2 linked regions of the Homo sapiens genome follow. The protein of the gene in region 2 interacts with the protein of the main gene of each other region in a pairwise test. Each region holds a gene or a part of one and is shown on either strand. Other genes may lie near its edges.

What was found. The genes of interacting proteins can lie anywhere in the genome.
Region 1: the proteins of HSD17B14 (region 2) and NUDT18 interact in binary tests that used the Homo sapiens proteins (3 or more experiments, as listed by UniProt).

What each region holds. Positions count from the first base shown.
Region 1 is NC_000008.11:22,107,574-22,111,318, forward strand, and holds the start of NUDT18 (8-oxo-dGDP phosphatase NUDT18), read right to left. Parts: upstream 1,728-3,745; coding exon 1,566-1,727; intron 774-1,565; coding exon 560-773; intron 323-559; coding exon 1-322. UniProt on the Homo sapiens protein: Mediates the hydrolysis of oxidized nucleoside diphosphate derivatives. Hydrolyzes 8-oxo-7,8-dihydroguanine (8-oxo-Gua)-containing deoxyribo- and ribonucleoside diphosphates to the monophosphates. Hydrolyzes 8-oxo-dGDP and 8-oxo-GDP with the same efficiencies.
Region 2 is NC_000019.10:48,829,797-48,833,541, forward strand, and holds part of HSD17B14 (L-fucose dehydrogenase), read right to left. Parts: intron 2,937-3,745; coding exon 2,870-2,936; intron 1,964-2,869; coding exon 1,872-1,963; intron 1-1,871. UniProt on the Homo sapiens protein: Catalyzes the NAD(+)-dependent oxidation of L-fucose, yielding L-fucono-1,5-lactone, which rapidly converts spontaneously to L-fucone-1,4-lactone. Can also act on D-arabinose and L-galactose, with lower catalytic efficiency. Does not use NADPH.

The sequences.
Region 1 (3,745 bases), on a different chromosome or scaffold from region 2:
GCCATCTTCATGCCACCCCTCTGCTCCATAGGGTCGAGGCCACAGGCAGTGACAGGCAAGTGAGGCATCCCCACTGTGCCCACTAACACCCACACTGTCTGGGCGCTGGTAAAGGTAGCCACGAGCCGCTGGCAGACCAGATCACAGGGTAGCTCTTGGGGCAGAATGAGAGGGTGCCTGGCTTGCTGGCGATACTGGGCGGCTAGTTCAACCAGGTGCAGGATGTCATGGGCTCGCAGCGGAGTGGGCAGGGAGGTCCGTGGGTACCAGGCAGCCTGCAGGGACTCCGCATCGGCCTCCTTGGAAGTCTTGAGAATTCCACCTGGGGGAGATGTGGGGGATGGGGCAGGGAGGGTCTGTGTGGAGAGAAGTGCAGCTCTGGCAGAGTCAACAGACATCCCTGACCCAGGAGAGAGGCCCCCAGCCCAAAGGCTGGAATCTGCCCATGCCAGGCTGTGCCAGCCATAACAGGACTGGCTGTAGAGGGGCTCACCTCACCGAGGAGCTGGGGGAAAGGTGTCAACTGGCCCTGTTCACACTGCCTCCAGGTGGGCCATACCTGTGGGGCGAGCGAGGAACACGAAGCGGACCCAGGAGGGGCCCCGCTCCTCCACGGACAGCAGTGTCTCGGGCTCACAGTGCAGCCCCGCCTCCTCCTTCACCTCCCGCTGCAGCGCCTCCACGATGGTCTCCCCTGGCTCCATTCTCCCCGCAGGCAGGTACCACGACCCCCGGCACTCCCTCTTGGCCTCCTGGATCAGTAGCACCTCATCCTGAGAGGAGAGAGGATCCTCACTTCCTGCCACAGCCTTCCCTCGCCCCGGGACCAGGGGGCATCTCAAACACAGTCGCCCAAGACTCCCCTCTGGGTGGACACTCTCAACCCAGCTAGCGCTCCAGGAGACCTGCCCTCGTGTCGCTGGGGGCTGCAGCCCTCTCCTCTCTGCAATTCGTCTCTCTCTGGATTTAGGAAGACTTCCATTTCAGGAAGGGCTGAGATTCCTGGAAGCCGCTTCAGGGGCTGGAGATGAGGCCCCAGAGTGAGGGTCACCATGTGTCTGTCTGTCTTGGATTGATTTGCGTCTGTACCTGCCACTGTGTATCTCTCGCCTCCAACGGCGTGGTTTACAAACTGTGATGGGTCCTCACACTGGGGTCTGGCTTGAAACACGACCCCCACCTCCGCTCTGTACAACCCCGCCCTATGGCCCTGGCCCCGTCTAGTTGTCATTACATCGCCCACTACAGGCATCAGCACCAAAGGCCTGAAGGTAAGCCGGGATTGAGCCACTGCTATCTGAGGGGCCCTGGGCACTCCGCTAGACTCTGGGGAAGGGAAGGAATGAGGCCTAGTCGGATGAGACAAACAGGCCCCGGGCCTCAGTTTCCTCTTCTGCATATCGGGACGAACGCAGGACACAGATGCGAGTGGGAGTGGGAGTGCTTTGCAAAACTGGGAAGCGCCACGCACGCGGCAGCGCTGGCTGTGGCCGTTGGGTCTTCTGTCCCCACCTGGGCTGGCTGCGCGCTCCCGAGGCCCGGCGGGCCCGGGGGCGGCCGCTCACCTGCTCGCTGAGGAACACGGCCAGCACCACGTAGCACACGTTCTTCCGCAGCCGCACGGGCGCCGGCGGCTCCCCGGCCGGCGCCGAGTCGCAGCTGTGCACGCTGGACCCCTGGCCAGCCAGCACGGAAGCCAGCGCCCCCGCCAGGCCCTCCGAGGCCATCGGGTCCCCCGGGGGGCGGCGGGCCGGATCCTCGCAGACCGACTGAGCCGAGCCGCGGGCTAGAGTGCGCTGCGGAGCCCGCTCCCAGTCCCTGCGGCAGCGGGCCGGGAGCTCACGAGAACGCGGAAGCGCACGCGAACGCGGAAGCGCACGCGAGCTCTGGCCGCTGATAGGCTGCGCGGCGCCGCGGCCTGCCCGGATTGGCCGGCCCGCGGCATTCACCGAGGGGGCGGGGCCGCCCGGGGCCGCCCTGGAACTGGGGGGGCACGGGTCCGGAGCCCAGCGGACCCCGCCCGGCTTCTGCCGCCTGTCAGTCCCGTGCGCTCGGGACGTCTCCCAGCCGCCACCCGCTCGCCAACTCCCCGAGCGCGCACTGGTCTGCAGGAGCTCCGACGGTGACGTCATCTTTCCTGCAGGGCGCGTTGCGCCGCCGGGGTAGGCGACGGTGACGCGACAATCCGGTGACGTCACGGAGGCCCGGGGCCGCCCCCTGGAACCACTGTCCCGCTGTTGCCGTAAACACACAATGGCATTGCCGGAGTTGATCATATCCCAAATACCTTTCTTCTCATTCCACCAAAGAGTTATAAATGTCACATGGCCCGTGGGGTGGGGGACATAAACCCCTGCCTTGAAGGAGATTCTGCAATAGTTGGAGAGATGGACGGAGTCCTAGATGAGGAGTCAGCTGAGGGTTCGAGGCTAAGTGCTAAATGCTTGGTTTGGGCAGGAAGAGTGACAGGCGCTGGAAGGAGGGAGGGGGCAGGGCTGGGGATGGCGGGAGGGGTCCGGGGCTGAGAGAAGGCTGCCGTCAGCCGGCCCACCCTCATCAGTGTCCCTCTGCCTACCGCATTTCCCACGCAGCTCAAGGCCCTCTCTGCTGCAGATGGTGCGCCCTGGGAGGGCGGGGGTGGGGCCCTGCTCCTCCATCCTTGTCGTCACCCTCCCACCCAGCGTGCAGGACCTGGCGCGTGGAGAGCAGGGTGGGGGTGGTTGTGGCGAGCGCCTGCTCCTCTCCCAGCTCGGCCTTTCCTCCTTCACCCCACCTCAGCACTGGAAGGCAAAGCCAGCTGGAAGGGATCTGCGAAGCAGGCCGTCTGGCTCCTCACCTGGCAGAGGCCACCCCTTTCCTCTGCCTCTGATAGTTTTGTGCGCCTCCCTGCTAGGGAGACTGTGGCTTGGTGGTGTGGACAAAGCTCAGGACCTGCAGCCAGATGGCCAGCCACTGCTGACTGGCTTGCTCTGTGCTCCTGGGTGAGCTGTGGGCCTCAATTTTCTTATTTGTAGAGCAGGATCATAGCAATTCTTCTTTTACAGGGGTGTTGGGAAGCCACAACAATTGGAGAGGAGCTGTGTGGATTGTCCAGCACTGGGCACCGTCCCCAGGCAGCCCACCAACCCTCAGGGGTGGTCCCTCTCCACCATAGCTCTTGCTACCACACGCAAGGCCTGCCCTCATGAAATGTGACTTTTGTTATCCCCTAGAGTCAGGGTTTCACTGTGTTGCTCAGATTGGAGGTGCAGTGGCGTGATCACAGCTCCTACTGCAGACTTGATCTCTTGGATTCGAGTCATCCTCCTGCCTCAGACTCCTGAGTAGCTGGGACTGCAGGTGTGCACCACCACGCCTGGCTAAATTTTTAATTTTTAATTCTTTGTAGAAACGAGGGTCTTGCTGTATTGCCCAGGCTGGTCTTGAACTCCTGGCCTCAGTGATCCTCCCACCTTGGCCTTCCAAAGTGCTGTGGTTGCAGGCATGAGCCACCATGCCTGGCGAAATGTGCCTGTAGAGCTGCCTTAGAACTGGACTCAGGAACTTCAGCAACGCAGGATGCATCTCTTTAGGCTCCTCTCACCTGCTGATACTGACCACAGGCTCCCTGGAGGCAGGGCCCTGTGTTAGGCTGTGGGATATCACTAGAAGGCCCATGAATTTTGAGGCACTTGCTGAACGCCGCTGGGCCAGGCCCTATCATGGACCTCTCACCTTCCAAATAACTGCAGGCACAGGACCCCAG
Region 2 (3,745 bases):
CCACACCCGGCTAATTTTGTATTTTTAATAGAGATGGGGTTTCTCCATGTTGGTCAGGCTGGTCTCAAACTCCCGACCTCAGGTGATCCGCCTGCCTCGGCCTCCCAAAGTGCTGGGATTACAGGCGTAAGCCACCATGCCTGGACTCCATGCTCTTTTTAAAAATTAATTAATGAATTATTTTTTTTTTGAGACAAGGTCTCACTCTGTCACCTAGGCTGGAGTGCAGTTGCACGATCTCAGCTCACTGCAACCTCCGCCTCCTGGGCTCAAGCTGTGATACCCTAACCTTGTTTTAACCTGAATTGACTCTCCCTTAGGTGAGCGAGCCAGACAGACTCCATCCTGGCTCCTTCACTTGCAGCCCCTTAACCCAACCCCCCTTTCTTCAAGGACTTAACTTGTGCAAGCTGACTCCCAGCACATCAAAGAATGCAATTACTGATAAGATACTGTGGCAAGTTATATCCGCAGTTCCCAGGCAGTCGCCCGATTAATAGTACCCTAAGCCCCCGCGTTTCTGTCTGGTTGATAGCGCCCAACGTCCAGCGTCTATCACCTTGGGATGTGTTTAAAGCCCCTGCACCTGGAACTGTCTGCTTTCCTGTAACCATTTATCTTTCTAACTTTTTTTGCCTGCTTTACTTCTGTAAGATTGTTTTAACTAGACTCCCCCCTCCCCTTTCTAAACCAAAGTATAAAAGAAAATCTAGCCCCTTCTTCGGGGCCGAGAGAATTTTGAGCGCTAGCCGTCTCTGGGCTGCCGGCTAATAAAGGACTCCTGATCTTGTCTCAGAGTGTGGCGTTTCTCTATAACTCGCTCGGTTACAACAAAGCAATCCTCCCGCCTCAGCCTCCCAAGTACCTGAGGCGCACCACCATGCTCAGGTAATTTCCGTATTTTTTGTAGAGACGAGGGTTTCACTATGTTGCCCAGGCTAGTCTCGAATTCCTGGGCTTAAGGGATCCTCTTGCCTCGGCCTCCCAAAGTGCTGGGATTACAGCTGTGAGCTACTGGACCTGGCCTATTTATTTATTTATTTATTTATTTATTTATTTTTGAGACAGCATCTTGCAATGTTGCCCAGGCTGTATGCAGTGGTGTGTACATAGCTCATGGCAGCCTTGACTTCCTGGGCTCAAACGATCCTCCCACCTCAGCCACCTGAGTAGCTGGGACTACAAGGGCACCACTACGCCTAATTTTTTAAACTTTTTGTAGAGATGGGGGGTTTCGCTGTATTGCCCCAGCTGTCTTGAACTCCTGACCTCAAGTGAACCTCCCACAAGGACCTCCCAAAGCACTGGGATTAAAGGTGTGAGCCACTGTGTCTGGCCCCAATATGTTCTTAACATCCCCTCCTACCACCACCAGTCTGGAAGGTTCTAGAAGGTTCCTAAGACTGGGCTATGTAGCTACAAAGGTAGATTTGCTGGATGTAGAGATTCGCAGTCATTTATCTTCCTTTTGGAATAAGGAGATTAAACTAAATAACAGAAAATAGATGGCCAGGCGTGGTGACTCAAGTCTGTAATCCCAGCACTTTGGAAGGCCAAGGCAGGCAGATCACTTGCAGTCAGAAGCATAGCTACCAAAAATTATGAAATTTAGCTGGTTTTGTGGCCCGCACCTGTAATCCCAGTTACTCAGGAGGCTGAGGCACGAGAATCGCTTGAACCCAGGAGGTGGAGGTTGCAGTGAGCTGAGATCACACCACTGTCCTCCAGCCTGGGCGACAGAGAGAGACCCTGTCTCCAACAAACAAACAAATAAAAAGAACGGAAAACATTTTGCTCTTAGACAAAATGCATCACACAATCCACCTATCAGGAGGCTGCTCGGGCCTGGCGGCAGGGTCGCCAGCCCTCACCTTGGTCAAGGTGTACGTCCCCAGTAGGTTCAGCTCCAGCAGCTGGCGGAATCCCTGGGCAGAGGTCTCCTCAGGCCTCTGTGGGGGTGGGTCTAAAGTGGGGGGTGAGAGAGAGAGGAAAAGTGACGGGGGCTGGACACAGTTGCCCACGCCTGTAATCCCAGCACTTTGGGAGGCTGAGGCAGGCGGATCATGAGGTCAGGAGTTCAAGACCAACCTGGCTGACAGGGCAAAACCCTGTCTCTACGAAAAATACAAAAATTAGCTGGGTGTGGTGGCGGGTGCCTATATTCCCAGCTACTCAGGAGGCTGAGGCAGGAGAATTGCTTGAACCTGGGAGGTGCAGGTTGCAGTGAGCCTAGATCGAGCCACTGCACTCCAGCCTGGGCGACAGAGTGAGACCCCATCTCAGAAAAAAAAAAAAAAAAAAAGCCGGGTGCAGTGGCTCATGCCTGTAATCCCAGCATTTGGGGAGGCCGAGGTGGGCAGATCATCTGAGGTCAGGAGTTCAAGACCAGCCTGGCTAACATGATGAACCCCATCTCTACTAAAAATATAAAAATTAGCCTGGCGTGCTGGTGGGCGCCTGTAATCCCAGCTACTTGGGAGGCTGAGGCAGGAGAATCGCTTGAACCCAAGAGGCAGAGGTTGCAGTGAGCTGAGATCACACCACTGCACTCCAGCCTGGACGACAGAGTGCGACTCCATCTGAAAAAAAAAGAAAAGAAAGAAGAGAAGAGAAGAAAAAAGAAAAGAAAAGAAGAGAGACATGGCCAAGTGAGGGCACAGCCCTGGGGACACACAGGAGGGATGGAACAGGGCCACAGTTTCAGCACAGGCCTGGGGGGCTTCCATTGCTTTACTCTCCTGTCCAAGTGGCTAGAAAGAGGTATGAGGCAGGATGAGGGAATCAGGGGCAGGGAGTGGGGAAACTGACGTGCAGGAAACAGAGTTGGGGGGCAGGAGGTGGAGAATGGCCCTGGGGTCTCACAACTCACGGTGGCCAGCGTTGTTGACAACACAATCCAGGCGGCCAAATCGGCGGATGGTCTCAGAAACCAGGGTCTGAGGAGAAAGGAAATGTCCTTTGTTTTTTTTTTTTGGAGACGGTGTCTCCCTCTTGTCACTCAGGCTGGAGTGCATTGGCACGATCTTGGCTCACTGCAACTTCAGCCTCCTGCGTTCAAGCAACTCTCCTACCTCAGCCTCCCAAGTAGCTGGGATTACAGGCGACTGCCACCACGCCCGGCTAATTTTTGTACTTTTTAGTAGAGACAGGGATTCACTAGGTTAGCCAGGCTGGTCTCAAACTCCTGAGCTCAAGTGATCCACCCGCCTCAGCCTCCCAAAGTGCTGGAATTACAGGTACCACGCCCAGCCCAGGAAATGTCCTTTGAATGAGCAGTAGATGGGGTGTCCAGCCATAAAGAAGACAGGGCTCCCAAATGCAAGGCAGGAGGGGGAAGCTGAACTCCCAGGTCAGGGGACAAGAGCTAGAGGAAGAGGGGACTCCGAGATCAGCAGACACAGCAGGCAAGCAGGAGACAGGAAGGAGACAGGGGGCTGGTCAGAGCCACACTGCAGTCGTCACACCCAGGGTCAGGGGGTGGGGCAGGGGGGTGACAAGGATTCAGAGAGCGCGTAGGGGACAGTTGCCCAAGGGGGGCAGATAACAGAGAGATACTGATTAAAAGGAAGAAATAGGAACCCAGAAATAATGGAGAAAAAATCAGTTACATACAGGCCACGTGCAGTGGCTCACACCTGTAATCCCAACACTTTGGGAGGCTGAGGTGGGCGGATCACCTGAGGTCAGGAGTTCGAGACCAGCCTGGCCAACATGGTGAAACCCTGTCTCTACTAAAACTACAAAA